Linked DNA regions of Homo sapiens: region 2 is linked to region 1. Evidence: fine-mapped expression QTL. Tissue or cell type: thyroid. Region 1 holds a variant in brackets; the other region holds the start of a gene. All regions are shown on one strand. Distances are between the middles of the regions.

What was found. PIP is the estimated chance that this variant, and not a neighbour inherited with it, causes the effect.
Region 2: RYK starts here. The variant in region 1 is fine-mapped to the expression of RYK in thyroid (GTEx, PIP above 0.99).

What each region holds. Positions count from the first base shown.
Region 1 is chr3:134,161,212-134,166,358 of GRCh38, reverse strand. The region is part of intron 13 of RYK (receptor like tyrosine kinase); the gene reads left to right. Among named protein-coding and RNA genes, the nearest start is that of RYK, 87 kb to the left of the region's middle. The variant A/T (reference allele first, on the strand shown) is at 2,142.
Region 2 is chr3:134,248,117-134,253,263 of GRCh38, reverse strand. RYK (receptor like tyrosine kinase) reads left to right here and starts at 2,405. Exons shown (of 15, transcript NM_002958.4): 1 at 2,405-2,841. The coding sequence starts at 2,610. RefSeq lists a silencer at 2,231-3,050 and an enhancer at 2,386-3,164.

The sequences.
Region 1 (5,147 bases):
AGTCCAAAATTAGGTACCAGCAGGTTCGGTGTCTGTTGAGAGCCCCTTTCCTGGTTCATAAATATCCATCCTCTCTTCTGGGTCCTCATGTGGCATAAGGGGTGAGGGAGCTCTCTGGTGGTCTCTTTTATAAGAGTACCAATCCCATTTATGAGGGCTGCACTCTCATGACCTGACCACCTTCCAAAGGCCCCAACTCCTAATACCATCACTTGGGGGTTAAGGTTTCAGCATATAAATGGTGGCAGGGACACACACATTCAGTCCACCACATTCTGCCACTGGCCTTCCAAAATTTATGTCATTCTCACATGCAAAATACATTCATTCCATCCCAACAGCCCTAAAAGTCTTAAGTTGTTTTAGCATCAGCTCCAAAGTCTTAAGTCCAAAGTGTCATTTAAATGTCGTCTAAATCTGATATGGATGAACCTCAAGGTACAGTTTATGCTGAGGCAAATTCCTCTCTAGCTCTGAACCTATAAAAGCAAATAAGTTATGTGCTTCAAAAATACAGTGGTGGGACAAGTAATGGATAGACATACTCATTCCAAAGGGAAGAAATAGGAAAGAAGAAAGGAGTAATGCATCTAAAATAAGTTGAAAACCTAACCGAACAAACAATATTAAACCTTAGGACTCAAGAATAATTCCCTTTGGCTTCGTACTCTGCTTTTCAGGTCCACTGGGGTGGGAACATCATCTCTCAGCTAGGTGGAACGTACCTCAGTGGCTGTTTGCCAGAGCCCCACCCCAGAGGCACTGAGGTCCTTTTTTGGCACTTGGGGCACACCAGACCTAAAGAGGCATCTAAGAGGAGGCATGTCCCTCTGGACATCTGCTCTAGGCCTGGTAAAGGGCGTCTACAGAAAAACCTATAGCTAACATATTTAGTGGTGAAAGGCTGAATTGTTTTTATTTAATACCAGGAACAAGACAAGGTTGCCCACTCTTACCACTTCTGTTACTCAGCACTGTCCTTAAGATTATAGCCAGTGCACTAAGGGAAGAAAAGAGTAGATAGAAAAAAGTAACTATTTGCAGAATAGTATGATCATTTATGTAGAAAATTCAGTATGATATACAAAAAAGCTACTAAAACTAATAAGTGAGTTTAGAAAGATTGCAAGATCAGTGTACAAAAATAAATTGTATTTTTGAACACTAACAATGAAAAATAAAGTTTTAAAAAAGTTTATAAGAACATCAAAAATACGAAGTTCTCAGGAATAAATCTGACAAAAAATGTGAAAGAGCTATACAATACATTGCTGAGAGAAATTAAATAATACATACACAATAGGAGAGGTACACCCTTTTTGCCTTGGTCAGAAAACTCAAGATATTCTCTCCAAGTTTGAAAAATATTATCAACATTATTAGTCATTCATTAGGGAAATGCAAAATTAAACCACAATGAGATACTGTTGGTTTGGCTAAAATTGAAAAGTCTGACCATACCAAATATTGACAAGGATATGAAAGAACAAGAGCTCTTTTACACTGCTGGCAGGAATGTAAAATGGGATATTTCCAAACTTTGGGAAACAGCTTGGCAATTTCTTAAAATGTTAAATATGTATGTACCATATTCAGTCATTTTGCTCTTAGATAAATGAAAACATGTTCTTACCAACACTACGCAGATGTTCATAGCAGCTTTATTTTTAATAGCTAAGGCTGAACATAATTCAAATGCTTATCAACAGGTAAATGGGTAAACTGCAGTATTCATATAACGAGCTATACTACTAAATAAAAAGGAATGAACTGTTGGTACATGCTACATCACAGATGAATCTCAGAATCATTCTGAGTAAAAGAAGCTAGGAAAACAGTATACAGCTTGAATAATTCTATTTATATAATTCTAGAAAACGCCAACTATCTAGTGACAGAAAGCAAATTAGTGGGTACTTGGGGATGGTAGTGCTGGTGGTAGGGAGGGGTGGAAGGAAAGGATCAAAACAGAATCATTTGGAAGTGATAGATATGCTCCTTATCTTGGTTGTGGCAGTGGTTTCAGGAGTGTTTATGTATATCAGAACTTATCCAGTGGAATACTTTATGTGCAATTTCTTATGTGTCAGCTGTACTACAATAAAAATAAATGAAAACTGTCTTTACTGTCTGATCACTGC[A/T]GCTAACAAATCTAGGACTACTTGCTAAATTTACCCAATCTTAAGACCCACCAAGGACTTTTGTTTAAAGGGATGTGATCCAGGCCTGTCATGGTGGCTCATGCCTATAATTCCAGCACTTTGGGAGGCCACGGCTGGTGGATCACTTGAAACCAGGAGTTCGAGACCAGCCTGGCCAACATGGTAAAACCCCATTTCTGCTAAAAATGCAAATAAATAATTAATTAAATAAAATAATGTGATCCAGGCTTCAGAATTATTAAGATAGGACAGAGGAACTGGACTTTTTAGCAAGCACCCCAGATAATTCTTCTCCTTCTTATAAAACACTTAACCCAGGTTCATTTAATTGCACTTTGGTAATCTGCAGCCATGTCTTTATGTGAGAAAGGGATATTAGGTTTCTAATATGAACAGAAAGGCCTAGCCATGGACCACCTGATGATGCTTCCACTGTGGTCAGATAAGATAATTTACAATTGAATGGAATTATTTTCCTTTCAGTTTATAGTTTACTGAAGTGAGCCTTGCATTGTAAGTTCCTGAAGTAATCACTGGAAATGTCTTAATTCAGTAGCTCCATCTTTAGTTAATGCTGCACTAAAAGAAAAAAGGAATTTTACTTACATACTTTTTGACAAGTCACATTCATATATGTTTTAGTGGAAAAACTGTTTTACATCTTATATATAGAAGCTGTAAAATAACATGTTCTGGGGAGAGGAATAAGATGAATAGAATAACATTATAATTATCTAAATGTTCTTTAAATGGAGATAGCCACAATCTTTCGTAAAACTCTGGAAAGAACAGCATGACCTTCTTATTGCCCCCTTTCCACCGACGTCAAACAGAAGGAAATTATAGAATAAGTCTGTCTAAATTTTAAATGGTTCAGTTATCGGAAGACCTTAGAGAGCAAGTTTTCCACAAATCATCTCTGCGCCATTTTGTCTTGATTATTTTTTTAAGGGTTGGTTTGCCAACATGTAATTAATCACTTTTGTTAGTTTTTAAGGAAATGAAACTGCATTGTTCCCTTTGGCTTGACTGTTCTTTTTTATGGCGTCTTTTAGTGTTGTAGTTGTAATATGAAAACCTTAGGTAAATGTTGGGCAGTAATGTGAACAAAACAGTGGGAAGGGAGTAATTTTTAAAAGCTTATCTACATTGCTGCTGTAATACTTACATTCAACTCCAGATCTCAAATACCACCAACTTTAATATCAAAGTCCCTTAAAGTCAGAAGGTGTTATAATGTCAGTGGATGGGGTTATTCCCTGTGTACAAAGAGTCAGGATGCACTTGTCACCAATTCCCATGGTTTCTTCTTCCAAAATCTAGTTTGAATGGATCATTTCATCTCTGGAGGAAGGGATGGGAGCACCCTTCCGACCAGTTTCATTTCTTTGGGCTCTGTTCCATCTGTGCAGGGAACTACCTTCTCTATGGAAATTGGACACGATTTTAAAAATAAAGCATTGCATTTACTAATGACTGTCAGTATTAAGATTTCATGTAGATCTTGTTGCTTCTCAGAAAAAAGTTTCATATACAGTAAGGTTTTAAAGATAGGCAAATAACTAGTTGTGAGCAGGCACCATCCTTTAACTTTTATTAATTTGAAATCATTTTTCCATTTTTAAGCAGAATAGAATGTCCCAGTAGGTGTAAGGGAAATTTCAGTAGCCTCCAAGACTCTGTGGAGATTTTGAAACTATACACGCTTCTCCATCTGTCGCCTGCCCCCTCCTCCCAGAGCATAGACTTCAAGGCTGGACTTTGCTCCATGTTAATGATCACTGTTAATGAAAAAGATAATAGGTTCCAAAAGGCTGACCACCTGTTTTTGGTATTTAGGGTAATGCTGCTGTCAAAGTGAATGAGATATATTCCTTCCTCTGTGTTCTGAAAGTTTACGTAGGGTTGGGTGTGTAATGGGTTGAATTGTGTCCTGCGTCTCCACCAAAAAAAAAAAAAAAATGGTTGAAGCCCTAACCCCCAGTACCTCAGAATGTGACCTTATTTGGAAATAGGGTCATTGCAGATGTAACGTTAAGATGAGGTCATACTCAATGAGTATGAGCTCTAATCCACCCTAAGAAAAGAGACACACACATGAGGAGAAAATGTCACGTGAAGATAGAGGCAGGGACTGCAGGGCTGCAGCTGCAAACCAAGACACACCAGGGGCTTCCGGCAACCACAGGAAGCTGGGAATAGGCAAGGAAAGATTCCCCCTACAGGTTTCCGGGGAAGCACAGCCACGCTGACACATTGATTTGGACTTCTAGCTATCAGAGCAGTGGGACAATAAATTTCTGTTGTTTAAACTACTCGTTTGTGGTATGTTATTATGGTAGCCCTAGAAAACTAATACAGATTTATATTTTCTTTCAAGTTTGATAGAATTCACCAAACAGTGTTGAGTTTTCTTTGTGGAAAGGTTTTGAATTGTGAATTCAGTATCTTTAATAGATGTAGGGCTATATAGATGTTCTGTTTACTCCTGTGTCTGTTTTGGTAATTTGTATTTTAAGAAATTTGTTTATTTCATTTAAGTTGCTGAATTTATTGGCATAAAATTGGATTGTTCATAATATTTTTTGATGTCTTAAAGGATGGTGTTCCCTCCTTTATTTCTGATATTTTAAATTTTTTGTTGTTGTTCAGTCTAACACAGTGGTTCTTAACTGGGACAGTTTTGCTCTGGCTAAGGACATTTGTCTGTGCCAAGGGACATTTGGCTATGTCCGGAGGCATTTTGGGTTGTCACAGCTTGGAGGATGTGCTACTATCATCTAGTGGGTAGAGCCCAGGGAGAATGCTAAACATCCTACAATGCACAGGACAGCTTCTCACAGCAAAGAATCCTCCAGCCCACAATATCAGTAGTGCTGAGGTTAAAAAACCTACTCTAGGCTTTATAGTGTAAACCTTCTATTTTCCAAAAATATTATATCATTTCATGTTTAATATAGTGTTTCCATTCATCCCCTTCCAGTC
Region 2 (5,147 bases), 87 kb before region 1:
GCTGCTACCTGTTAGTATGGGCAGTGTCCAAGGAATTTACATTACAAGTTCCCAGGTGATGATACTGCTGGTCTGGGGGCCACACTTTGAGAACTTGTCTTTGTAGAATTTATGAAAACATTTGTTTATCAAAGTTCTCAAGGAAGCACATTGCTCGCTCCTGTGTCCCCAGTGCCTAGCGTGATGCCTGGCACGAGTCTTCATCGAGCTCAGGCTCTGGGCCAGGCTCAGTGCTATTGAATGAGGTTCATGAGGGTCCCAGGTTTGAACTGTTTGGAGGTAACTGGTGATGAAACTTTCACAGGAAGTGGTCATTAAAGGGAAAGGATTCCTTGTAATTACAATAACAACAGGTGTGACACCTACCCAGCGTCTGCCTAGATGTTTTACTTGTATCCCTCTCCAATTAAATCCTGTAAAAGCCCTGGGAGTCGGGCATTATCCCGGGATTTTTATGAATGAGAGAACCAAGGCTTGGAGAGTTTAATTTTCCCAAGACCACAGGATTAACAAGTACCAGAACCCAGCCAGGCCTGAGTGGGAGCTCTCTGCTGTTTACATCATAGGCCGCCTGAAGAAGTCACTGACAAGACCTAGTAATTAAAGAACCTCGAGAAGCTAGGAGTTTCATTCTTTGAGGACTGTGAGCTTTTTTAAAAGTGCAAAGAATATGCCATCCTTTAAAAAAATGCTTCCCATCTGAATTGAGATTCCTGTTCACACAACATGTTTTGAGCCTCCAGCCCTTCCTGGCAGAACCCTGGTAGCAGTGGCTGTCCCAACAGAAGTATTTTTGCTGACTTTTGTGGCTTAAAAGCCTTCTCTGATGGAGCACTTTTCCTCCCCTCTTCCTCTTCTCAGCCTCCTCCGGCAGGATGAAGGGTGTAAGATTTTGTGCTGAGGCGCTGAAGCTTGACAAATTGAGGCCAGCCTATCTCTAAATGGAATCCGTGTATCTTGCTAGGGAGGGAGAAAATCAAGTTCCAGCACTTCCCTCCTTATCAGCCTCTCCTTTTCCCTACCCTTCCCTGAGGATAAAAATAACCGCTTCCCAGGGCCTCACTGCGATGGAGCAACTGTGCCCCGAAGCCAGGCCTAGCTGTCAGAGCAGCTGCTCCCCGAGGCACGGCCCCGCGAGAGCCTTGGGGTCAGGACGGGGGCCTGTCCGCAGGGACGAGGTGTCCCAGGACAGGGCAGGGGCCCTTGGAGCCTCACCAAGAGAGGGGGCACTGGTGCAAGTTTGACCGCGATGGTGGGCGGCTCACAAAAATACATCAGGAGGCCCGGAAGTCCATGCACTGGCTGGCTCCACCGCCTTTAAGTACACGAGGTCTATCTGCAGTTCTTAACCTCTTTGAGGGCACAAGGACTCCCTAGAACAAATGATGACATACCACCTCTCTGTGTGCAATCAAGCATACACACAACACACAGAAACATGGACGTGGACACAAATACGCACGGAGACACATACACTTTTGCACACAGTTTCATATTATTGGAAGGCTGTCGAAGCCTGGTATGGACCACAGATTAACAACCCCAAAGGCAGGTTGATTATAGTGATGCAGAACGATTATAAAAAAAATAACAATTTGGCAGGGCGCGGTGGCTTACACCTGTAATCCCAGCACTTTGGGAGGCCGAGGTCAGTTGATCACGTGAGGTCAGGAGTTCGAGACCAACCCGGCCAACATGGTGAAACCCCGTCTCTACTAAAAATACAAAAAAATTAGTCGGGCATGGTTGCGGGCGCCTGTAATCCCAGCTACTCGGGAGGCTGAGGCAGGAGAATGGCTTGAACCTAGGAGGCAGAGGTTGCAGTGAGCCGAGATCGTGCCAGTGCACTCCAGCTTGGGTGACGGAGCAAGACTTCGTCTCAAAATAAATAAATAAAAATATAAAAATAAATAAAATTTTGTAACGTAAAAATAGGGTTAGTAAAGCGTGCTAAGATCTTTCTGGAAAACAAATATATGTAGTATAAATTCTAATAATAGATACGGAAACGATAAAGTTGATCACCGATGGTAAGATAAAGGATGATTTCTATTTATTTGAGTTTTCCCACTAAACAGGAAAGCATGCTGCTTTTTCGCAACCAGAACGGCCGCATCCAGGCGTTTCCGGGGACCTGGGGCGCCCACTGAGCTGCAGGCGCGGCCGGTGGCTCCAGCCTGGCCCGTCCGTCGGGAAAGGAGGGTTACAGACAATAGACAAGCAAACATTAGACGCAGTGACCGCGTGGGGCGGGGACCGGCTCTTGCGGAGAGGGTGACCCGAGCCCTTCGCCCGCCGAGGCACTTTAAAACCCCAGCGCGTTGCCCAGGCCGGCCCGCCCAGAGCGAAAGGTGCGTGCGCGCTCCCGGGGAGGCGGCGGCGCGCACGGGCGCGTCCCGCGGGCAGCCCCCAACTCCGGACGATGCAGCGAGGAGGCGGCGGCGGCGGCGCGCTCCGGAGGTCTGAAGCCACTGCTGGCTGCCACGGGCCGGCGGTGCGATGAGCTGGGCAGCCGCCCCCGGCTCGGGGCTGTGAGCGGCTCGGGGCCGGGGGTGGGCGGCGGTGCGGCGGGCGGCCGACGCTCCTCTTCGGCGGCGGCGGCGGCGGCCATGCGTGGGGCGGCGCGGCTGGGGCGGCCGGGCCGGAGTTGCCTCCCGGGGGCCCGCGGCCTGAGGGCCCCGCCGCCGCCGCCGCTGCTGCTTCTGCTTGCGCTGTTGCCGCTGCTGCCCGCGCCTGGCGCTGCCGCCGCCCCCGCCCCGCGGCCCCCGGAGCTGCAGTCGGCTTCCGCGGGGCCCAGCGTGAGTCTCTACCTGAGCGAGGACGAGGTGCGCCGGCTGATCGGTGAGTGGGGCCGCCGAGGCCGGGGCGGGCAGGTCGGGCCGGCTGGGGCAGCTTCCGGCCGCCGGCGGATCAGTCTGCGAGCCGTGGACCTCGGGCGAGTACCCTCCCCGCCCCCCGCGCCCGGATTCGCCTCGCGGCCCGGTCTCTGCCTGCCGTGCTGGCTGGGAGGTGTGGTCCCTGCCCGGTCCCCAGCTCTGGGTCAGCCTTCGTGCCGCCCTCGCTGCCCCGCCGCGATAGACCCAGATTCACCCCATCCCATCCTCCTCACTGCCTCCTTAGCCCTTCTCCCTAGAAGAGTCAGTCACCCTTACAACTTTTTTTCCTTGCTGCACGAAGTTTTTTTGACGCTTTCTATGTGTGTCACTCTAGGGCCCTCGATTTTGAATATCTCGAAATTCACGTTTTAGACTGAACTTGCAAACCCTTTGCTGTGGTTTTGATGCTCCAGTAGAGGCCACGCTCTGTGCTTACCCTTTTACAAAAAAAAAAAAAAAAAAAAAAAAAACGAGAGAGAAAGAAGGGGAGGTTATAAGGGCACCAAATGTTCGTGGCAGCCTCCAACTCTTGGGACGTAGATTTGGAGCATATGCTTAGATTCTAAGCATATTTTTAGTGAATGAATCGCCAGGTAGCAGACCTTTTTAGTTTCAATACCTTTTTGGTTTTTGCATTGGGTGTGTTGGGAGTTTGGACTGACTCTGTACTTCTGGGCCACTCTCCTACTTTTGAGTATCTTGAAGGGAAACAAGAACTTAGTCTTGGGTCGGTTTGTGGTTCCATTTACTTGCTTAGCTTTGTTGTTTGGGGAATTAATTTGAAAAATTGCTGGGGTCTTATGTTAGGACTTTGTGGATTCTGGAAATGACCCCTTAGAGGAAGATCTGACAGGAACGACCCCCCAAAAAGGAAGTCCTTGGTACCTAGACGTTTGCATTCTTTTGTTATTATGGCAGTATCTTTATTTCATCTGAAGGTGGTGCTTCTGAGTGTTTGAGGGGAAAAATTATTCTCTATTGCATCCATTATTTGTCAGTATTCTATTTTTTTTTAAGTAATAAGACTTTGTTGAGGTGTGTTGAGATTGACTCAGTGTAGAAATGGAATTACTGAAAGCAGACTCTTTAGACATTACATGTACGGATTTGCAGTTTTTAGCCAAAGAAGAATGCTCTTTTTATGAAGTCGTGCTCATTCTTAATCCTTCTTAGTCTAGCTGAGTTAGCTGAATGTAGTTTAGCTGAATTAAAACTCTACTTGGGGTAGTACTTGGAACACAAGACTAAGATTTAGGAAAAATAATACAAGACGACTCATATCACATTAATTTTAGAAATATTAACGTATTATGCATGGTTTTGTAAAGGCTTTTTGGTTAAAAGCACTTATATAGCTTGTGACTTTGTTTACATGGGTAAACAAAGTCAGAGGTGTAGGTAGGAGACAGAAGACAACCAGGGACTGACATTGAATTCCTGCCATATACCTGCCCCTACATGCTTTATACACATAATTTCTTCTAATTTTCTCGGGGCCCAGTGAGGTAGGTGGCATTATGCCTATTGTAGAGATGAGGAAAGTGGGGTTTTAAAGTAACTTGCTCAAGGTCACACAGTTAATTTTTTTTTAGACGGAGTCTCGCTCTTGTCACCCAGGCTGGAGTGCAGTGGCGTGATCTCGGCTCACTGCAATCTCTGCTTCCTGGGTTCAGGTGATTCACCTGCCTCAGCCTCCCAAGTAGCGACCACTTCTGGCTATTTTTTGTATTTTTAGTAGAGACAGGGTTTCACCATGTTGGTCAGGCTGGTCTTGAACTCCTGAGCTCGTGATCTGCCCGCCTCGGCCTCCCAAAGTGCTGGGATTACAGGTGTGAGCCACCGCACCTGGCCTAGTTCATATTTTTGAAAAAAATGAAACAGTGTTGACATAGGCTGCAAAGTTTTATCGAATGAAATGAAGATTTTGTCTGTAGAAGTTTGATTATGTCATGGTGGAAAATAAATCATTGCTAATTAGCACTTGAGTTATATATTTGTTACCTTATTCAAAGGTTGGCCTGGAACTAATTTTCTTAGCAGTATTTGCAGCAGAGGAAGCTCCTGTTTGATGAGCATCCAATTTATGCCCAGAAATGCTGTTGCTGGGAGGGTAGGAAGCATTGTTTCAATTAACTCCCTTGTCTATCCCCGGGGGCGAGAGAGACTTCTAGTAGTATTTTCTCTAGTGCAAATAGGGTTGACCTGTTACAGAGGATCTCTAGTCACTCCATCCTGCCAGATTCAGGTTCGTTGTTTCCATCCCTTCCCATC